Linked DNA regions of Homo sapiens: region 1 is linked to region 2. Evidence: fine-mapped expression QTL. A gene starts in region 2. The other region holds a variant in brackets. All regions are shown on one strand. Distances are from middle to middle. Region 1 overlaps PRUNE2 (prune homolog 2 with BCH domain). Region 2 holds the start of PRUNE2 (prune homolog 2 with BCH domain).

Region 1 (4,396 bases), 200 kb before region 2:
CTTTGTGACTATGTAGGAAAGATCAGGCACATCCATCACTGTCTTGGGGAACTGGTATTTGATCCCCTGCTGGACAGGTCTATAGCTGGAGGATGACCAAGGTGTTGGCAAAGGATTCTGGAAAGATTGATCCTAGGGAACATGAATGCAGTGCTGCAAATCTCAAGGGAGAGAGGTTATCTTTCAGCCCTAGTAACAAGTTTTGTTAACAAGAGTCAGTAGGTGGCATATGAGGAGAAAAGGCATTTTTCTCATGCTTTCTCAGATTTTCAAAATGTGGCTTGCAGCTCTCAAAACAGTTTGGCAGCTAAGAGAGGCTGAGGCTGAAGGAGGGGAGGGAAGAAGCTGATTTGCAGCTGGTGAGTCATATTGCACATACTATGAACCTATTTCTATTTAAGAAGAGGCTTTCTTAATTTTCTTTTTTGCAGAATGGTCTTGATTTTGGATCTTCTGTTCTATGATCAGATTATGTGTCAGAAGATGTTTCCAGGTTTTTGTTTGGGAAACCACAGCTATCTCATTGTTTTGCTTCTGTGATTACCTTCCTGTCCCCATGGCTTCCTTCATAGTATTCATCCCAGTTCACTCAGCTAGCTTCTTACCCTCTTCTTTGCCTTTCCAAATTATGACCTTTCCTTTAGTGACTTTCATAAGCCCCTTGAGGAGTGCCTTCATAAGCCCCTTCTGTCATTAAAACATTTTTTAAAAATTTATTTTATAACTTTGTTGGTATAAAGACAAATCCACTTGAAAGTATAATAATTTTTTCTTCTGACTATAAAAGAAAATATTCTCATGGGCTCCTTAAAGTATCATGGGCCCTGGGCACTCTGTCTCCTGTGTCTGACAGAGAATAAGCCATTCCTGCTGCCTGCTCCATAAAGGCGCCCGAAACAGATATCTCTCCTCTTATTTCCTCACTTGTATAATTCTTGTCTCGCAGGGTTGCCCTATGTAAAGTGAAATAGCGCAGAGTGCTTAACACCTGGTCCAACAGCAAATAGCCTGTAGTTAGTACCCATTTTATACTTAAACTGACATTGGGCATTGACTAGCTTGACTTAAATATTACACTGCTATCTACCTTTTTACTTATGTCTAACTCTTTAGTTAAACTGTAAACTCCTAGACGGCTGACAGTATGTTTTAAACCAGTGGTTCTCAAGCTTTGGAGGGCATCAGGAGTTGCTGAAGCTCAGCTGGCTGGGCCTCACCCCCAGAGTTCCTGATTCCGGAGGTCTGAGTCGGAGCCGATAATTTGCATTTCTAACAAGTACTCAGGTGATACTGATGCTGCTGTTCTTAGGACCCCACTTAGAGAACCACAGTTTTAGACAACTCTTTATTCTCCCAAAATCTAGCACAGAGGGAGACTTACACATTCACAGTAAATTATTTATGCAAAAGATAATACACATGCCGGAGGGAAAATCTGCCCCATCCCCATTGTGAGAAAAGTTTCAGTACTACAAAAGCTGAGCAGAAAGGGATGAGCAAAGAAATCTTGTTGAAAGAAAAGGTGCTGGTGGCACAATTGAACACTGACTGTCATCTGTTGGATCTCGGGGCATGTGCAAAATGCACACAAGAAGCCAAACAATAGCTCAGCCAACTCATGGCTGCCTGAGTTCTGAGCTCAATCTATAACAATGCCAGCAGGGCTGCTGGGATCCATCTGCTACTCTCTTTCTGATAACGGATCTGGGGTCTCTCTGGAAGAAAATAGCTTGACAGGAAGAAAGAAGGATTAGGCCAGCTGACAATGTCTGGATTTATGAAGCTGCCCTGGAATATGGTAGAGCTTTTAACCCCTTCTGCACTTGGCTAATCCTCAACATACCCCAGCTATTCTTTCCATTGTCCTTGTTCCTTTCATCAAGAAATGTAATTTGTGAATGCCAAAGCTCCCCTGGACACATTCTGTTTCCACACAAATTAAGTTCCCAGAATTTAATACTGCAGGAAGCCTTGAGATCTTTCAGCCCAACTCACTAATTTTACGCATGAGAAAACCTAAGCCTGGGATTAATCCTAAAATGTATAATCAGTCATGGTAGAGGCAGGCTGGAATCCAGATTCCTTGACTCACTGTGGGTATGTGATGTGTATAGTCCTTTACACTCCCAAGCTGAGTAGCAAAAATATATCTTTTCTCGCTTTTTTTTTTTTTTGAGACGGAGTCTGGCTCTGTCACTCAGGCTGGAGTGCAGTCACACGATCTCGGCTCACTGCAACCTCCACCTCCCAGGTTCAAGCAATTCTCCTGTCTCAGCCTCCCAAGTAGCTGGGATTACAGGTGCTGCCACCACCCC[A/G]GCTAAGTTTTGAATTTTTAGTAGAGACGGGGTTTCACCATGTTAGCCAGGGTGGTTTCAAACTCCTGACCTCAAGTGATCCACTCACCTTGGGCTCCCAAGGTGTTGGGATTACAGGTATGAACCACCGCACCTGGCCGATATCTTTTCTCTATTACATTTTAAGGAGAAAACATGACTTTCCCCGTTACTTAAGTTACTTTTCACAATTTGTTCTTTTGTCCCTGGAAGCAGGTGGGCTTCATAAACACAAATGAAGAGAAATGAAGAATGCTAAACAGTTTCAGCAGAGACTGGAAGCTTGAGGGCAGTGATGACATCCTATTCCCTGATATATGCCCATTGGCTACCCAGAACCACGGCACAGAGCAAGCTCTCAAAAACCACATGGTGAATGAATGAATGAATGAATCACTGATTTAATGACAGTTTGCCAATTTCTCTGCCAATTAGGGAATGAATGTGTTACACTGAGATTTGGAGACTGCTGTGGAGCCTGTCTCTTATCTAACTATAAGTTAGGTGCTTACATAAAACCAGAAAATGCCTTGTATTTGAAAATATGAAAATGCCTCTGTATGCTAAGCGGTGTGTCAACTGAGAAAGTACAGGCTTTGGAGGTGGCAAGCTTCGAATCCCAGGTGTTCACTCTGGTTACTTAATTCTAGGCAAATTATAGAAAATTTCTGAGCCTTGAATCCCCCTACTCAACCCTACTCCTTCCATTCCCCCCACTGGCATGTTAGGATTAAATGAGATAATGTATGCAAACTGCCTTGCACATAGTAGGTGCTGATTAAATGTTAGTGTCACTTCCTTGTATTCCCAACTGCCTGTTGAAGAGTCATGTAGGTATTCAAGTAGGTGGGGTGGCAGTTGGGGGGTAGGTATAAGACTGAATGAAAATTGAAGGGGCTTTTTGGCTGAAAATGTACATAAATTATCATTATGGTTATAGTTATCTAGTAGCTGCTTTTACTGATGGTGTGCCTTGCATTCAATATAAGCAAAGCTGCTATCATCCAGGTATTCCTCATATTCCATAACCTCTAACCATTTCCCAGGTTTCTAAATAAATTGCTTTTCAGGAAAAAAAATAAATCTAGCTTTTTGCTTACCCATTTGGTCTTGATATCCTGGTTCCGAGCTCAAGGAACTCTGTCTCCTCCTCCATTTCCGTGTCAGGGATCATGTTTTTCTGAACAGGCTGTGGTGAAAGCATTTCCCATTCATTGTCATGGGTGACAGCCTGCAACGTAACTGCATCCGGGCCAGCCCTGCCTCGGCTCTTACTCTTCTGTGATTGGCTGACTGGACCAGAGGCTTCCTCTAGTGCCAAAGATTCTAGAGGCTTCATTTCTTCCAGAATCTGCAGCTGGGGACCCTCACCCAAGCCGAGTTCAGAGAACGGCTCCACAGTCTTGCCAGACCACCCAGGCCCTGAGTCCCTGGCATCCAGTGATGGATCACCAACCTCACTATGGCCCAAGAACATCCAACTCTGGTCTTGTGCAGGGCTTTCAAAAGATGATCTCGTATCGCTTTTAGAAGACATTTTCTCTGCAGAGAGACCTTTTCTTTCATTTAAGGAGGCTGGCTGACATGTGTCTGGGAAGCTTGCTAACTGAGTTCCCTGCAGCCCTGTTTCTTTGGAACCTACATACAATTCTAATTCAGCTATGCTTTCTCTTTCTTCACAGGTCTCTGGCTTTGAGTGTGAATTTTCTTCACGGTTTACAAGTATGTAATCCATGTGTAGTGCATGACGATCTTCATTCTTCTCTGTACATCTTTCTTCCTTGTATTCTGATTTTATCTGCTCAGGCTCTTTGGTAGGAATTGTTTTTTCTTCTTCCAATTCTGATATTTCCTTGCTGGCACCTAGAAGTGGAAGTTGAAAGTGAGAAGAGGAGAAAAAGGTTTAATTAACACATTGTGTGATTTGTGATCCTTGCAAATGATCATCTAAAAGAGGTAATTTAATATTTTTTATATATTTTATTTATTTATTCATTCATTCATTTGAGACAGAGTCCCGCTCTGTCACCCAGGATAGAGTGCAATGGTGTGATCTCGGCTCA
Region 2 (4,396 bases):
AGTGGCACAATCTCGACTCACTGCAACCTCCGCCTCCGAGGTTCAAGTGATTCTCCTGCCTCTGCCCCCCTAGTAGCTGGGATTACAGGCACACGCCACCATGCCTGGCTAACTTTTGTACTTTTAGTAGAGATGAGGTTTCACCATGTTGGCCAGGCTGGTTTCGAACTCCTGACCTCAGGTGATCCACCCGCCTCAGCCTCCCAAAGTGCTGGGATTACAGGCGTGAGCCACCACACCCGGCCAAATCTTACCTTTTTATTATAAATAAATTTCCCACAAGTGAATGACATTGACTTAATTCTTTTTCTCCAAGAAAAAGGTTATCTACCCTCTAAAGGAGAATGTTATCTACTACTATATTTGAGTGTCATACATTAAGTAAAAATCTTATTACCTAGAAAATGTAACTTCTCAGGAAAATATGACACTAAAAGTGACCAACACACCTTTGCTGTGGCTGGATGTGAAAGGTTAATCATGATTTCTAGAAGAAGCTTATTCCAAGAAACGATAAAATTAGCAGTAATTGTTCTGGCTAAGACATGAAACTGGTAACAATATTTCAAACAACCGCTTCTCTTTCCTGTCCTTTTTTTTTTAATGATGTAGAGCAATTGCTCGTCTAATGAAGGGTAAATAAATTACAGATTACTTTCAACTCATTACTCGGAAATAGGGAAACTTCCATTCCAGCAACTGCTCCTCAGAATTGAGACAAACCTCTTGCTCATATCAGACCCCACAGTCTAAATGTTTATTGTGAAAATATTGATAAATAAATGTTATGGGAGTGAAAAACAGATACAGCCCAGAACTCTGTGTTTGTCATTGATTACCATTTTCATACACACACACGCACAGTTGCCAAAATTGTCTTTCATTTTTGAACATTTCTCCTTCATTACTAGGTAAAGAACAGAACATGTACTTATACTATCAGAAATGCCAAATACTTACTTGAGTTTCTGAAATTAGTATTTTCATCCATGTGCTCTAGTAAAACTATAAAAGGGTCAATAAACACAGAGATGATCACAAACTTCCTCAACTCGGAAATCTCCACAAACGTTCAACTCTCTGGGAGGTTTCAGGTAGAAAGTTTTATATAAGCACTTATCAACTTTAATGGTCTTTTACAAGATAGTTACAGTTAGACCATTGTAAGGATCACACTTCCGTCTGCACTCTGAATGGTGGTTCAGGCATCTTTGGGCCCTCCCTTCCTGCACTCCCTTTGTTGTGCGAGGGTAAATGAGTTACAGTAATAACCCTGCAAATATCCTGCCTTGTGATTAAAACATTACCTTAATGCAGACTTTACATTTTGGCTTCTATGAAGGCTTAAAGGTTAAAGGCATCATAAATTATGCATTTCTTTCTATGCCAGGCCTGTAAAAGGTGCTTTTACAGTTCTTTAAAGATATTGCTTCTAAATGAGTACAGGCTTTTCTTTTTTTTTCTGCCAAAACAGAAACATTTCCATTATGTTTATTACTGCTGTGCTGGAGAGCCAAAACAGTTTGGAATTAAGAAACTGCTAGAGTCTGTTGTTTCAGAATGTGTAGCAACTGTTAACATACACAGTGGAGTTGCCCATTCACTGTTTGGACAGTGATATGGTAAACATGGGCTAACACACAGGTCTGCTCCCGGGAGAACGATGATCTGGTAAACTCCAGAACACCAACAGTTAGAGCTTTCCCCTTCTGCCTCCGCCCCAATTTACAGATGTGAACAGGAATTAGCGAGACACAAGACACACTAGAATATCCCTAACTCCTGCAGTGGAGCAAGCTCTATTCTGTGGATTCTCCAGTACCACACATGTCCTTGCTACCCAGCACCCTGACTTCCTCACTTTTGTCACCTCCAGCTGAAGTACAGTTCTAAGGGTCTCTTTTTTTCCTTTTACACTTACACGTAATGCATCTGCAGAAGGCTGGGCTCTTTATCTCAAGGAAGACCACACCCATTTATCCCTTAGCTTTCAGGAGCAAACTGCTGATTTAGGGACCGAAGCTGGACTGAAGCGACCCAACTTCAGCCAGGCCACAACCTCCTTCAGCTCTGCACCTCGTCTGGTTGCGGTGGAGGATTCTGGAGACAGATTGCCAGCTTTAAGAGCCAGAGTTCCTGAGATTTCTTCCAGGAGACAACCCGCACACCCTGATAACTCCGTGGCAAAGTTGTTTCTTCCTCCTCTGCTGCAACACCTTTTCCTCTCCACCTTTCCATTAGCATACGCGCGCGCGCACACACACAGCTTTGCTCACTCAACTTACCAGTTTAGATTTGGCGCGTTGCAAAAATTCTTCCATGTCGTGGCTAGGGGTTTGGAACCCGGGTACTCGGAGGGGCGCAGTGGAAAATCTCGGCCCAAGGAAGACGAGCGGGGTCCCGGGAAAGTGGCCCGCCGGGGCGCAGCGACCGACTGCTCCCTCCTGCCGCTCTGAGGCGGCTGCGGCGGAGGCTGTGCTTGCGCCCTCGACCGTCTCGCCCAGGGCTCCCCGCCCCACCCCTCGCCCGGCCGCCGGCTCTGGGCACCCGACTCTGCCCTAATAAGGAAAGTGGGTGTGCCGCCCAGGAGCCCCGGGGCGCGCCGGGCACGCTCTCTGGCACGCGCCTCGGGCGCCGTGGCGCGTGGGCGGAGGTGCAGGGGTATGGCGAGGGGCTCCTCCGCCAATCGCAGGGCCGTGCTGCGGCCTCCTGACGTGGCGCGCCGAAAGCTGCTGCAACCATGGACAGCGCCCAGAAGTGCGAGCCAAGTGCAAGGGGCTGCTGCAGAGGGAGGCTCTGCCGCAGGCACCGCCGCGGTCAGCGGGGGAAGGTGGGAAGAGGGAGACGGGTCCCAGGAGAGCCCCCGCCTCGCCCAGCGCCTCACTGGCTGGCTGGCGCGTTACGGAGCACTCCGGCGGTCACTTAATGATCTGGTCGGCTGGCCTGGCCGGGGGAGGCACTCAGCTAGATTGGCGTGGGAGGGACGAGGAGAGAAAGAGGGGAGTTACTGCTGAGCTAAAAGCAGTACGACCTTGATGGATAATAATCAGAAGAGCAGGCTAGGAGGTTGGGCGAGGCTGCGTCTTTCCTCCCTACCATGAAAACATGTCCACACAACAATGGGCATCCACAGTTCACCCCAACTAGGTGCCCTTATGTCAGCCCTGGGACTAATGCATAGATACATCCTTCTGCAGTTCCCATCCACTGACATGTACCCTCAGGGAAAGCTGGGGCAATAGAACCTTGCTAAGGTGAGGTGCAGTCTGCAGACCGGCAACATCAGCATCGCTGATCTTATAGAAATGCAGAACCTCAGTCCCCTGCTCCTACTTACCAAATCAGAATCTGTGTGTTTCTATGAGACCCTCAGATGATTTCTATGCTTGTTAAAGTTTAAGAAGTACTACAATGAACAAATGAACTTATATCTACAAACCTTATTTTAAATCATGGGGTTTTGTTGTATGTAGCCTTGTCCGGTCCCCAAACACACTACATCAGGCTTTCTCTGACCTCTGGGCTTTTGCACACCACCTGTAAGATCCTTCCAGCCCTTGTCCTAGCCCCCAGCCTCAGCTGTTCTACAGAAGTAGCCTCAACCCTGACTGCACAGTAAAATCACATCGTAATCACCTGAGACTTGAGAAAGTACTGATACCAGGGCTTTATCCCAGTCCAATTAAATTAATATCTCTGGGCATGGGGCCACAGCATTTCTGTGGAAAGTGACCCAAGTGATTCTAATGTGCAGTTCAGGTGTGATGCTCTGATTCTCGATGAACTTTACATGTATCTAAATCACTTAGAGGGCTTGATGAAACACAGATTTCCGTGCCCCATCCTTAGAATTTTAGCCCTAATAGGTGTGGCTTAATGGGCCTGAGAATGTCCATGTATACAATCTCCCAGGGTTTGCCGATGCTGCTGATCCAAAAACCACACTTTGACAGTGAGTGGCGTAGAAGTTCTCTTTCTCCAGAAAGCCTCCCCAACACACTTTTCCCTTCCCATCCCCAGACTGAGTTGGTTGCCCCTTCTGTATTCCCTCATAGCAACTTACATTTTCCACTCTGCTATAAATTGCATAATTATTTGTCTATGTCCTCCACCAGGCTGTGAGCTCTGTAAAGACAGGGACCTTGCCTGTCTCATTCACTGATGGAACCCTAACATGATGTATGTTCATGTCATATACAGGTCCTCAATAAATATGTTTTAATGAAAAAAGGTACATATGGAAGGGTTTTTTTTTTTTTTGCTCTATTTCTCCTGTCTCAATGTGTGTCTGTTTTCTTGTCTGTCTCTGTGTGTATATGTGTGTCTCATGATCCAATTATTTTTTATTCAGAAGGATCCAATGAAAACAAATCAGCAGGGTCCACAGATCTGATTA

Evidence for each region.
Region 1: its variant is fine-mapped to the expression of PRUNE2 in blood mononuclear cells (TOPMed, PIP 0.96).

Annotation. Positions count from the first base shown.
Region 1 is chr9:76,699,904-76,704,299 of GRCh38, forward strand. It overlaps PRUNE2 (prune homolog 2 with BCH domain), which reads right to left. Exons shown (of 19, transcript NM_015225.3): 9 at 3,434-4,196. Among named protein-coding and RNA genes, the nearest start is that of PCA3, 62 kb to the right of the region's middle. The variant A/G (reference allele first, on the strand shown) is at 2,316.
Region 2 is chr9:76,903,643-76,908,038 of GRCh38, forward strand. PRUNE2 (prune homolog 2 with BCH domain) reads right to left here and starts at 2,472. Exons shown (of 19, transcript NM_015225.3): 1 at 2,286-2,472. The coding sequence starts at 2,321. RefSeq lists a silencer at 2,542-2,601.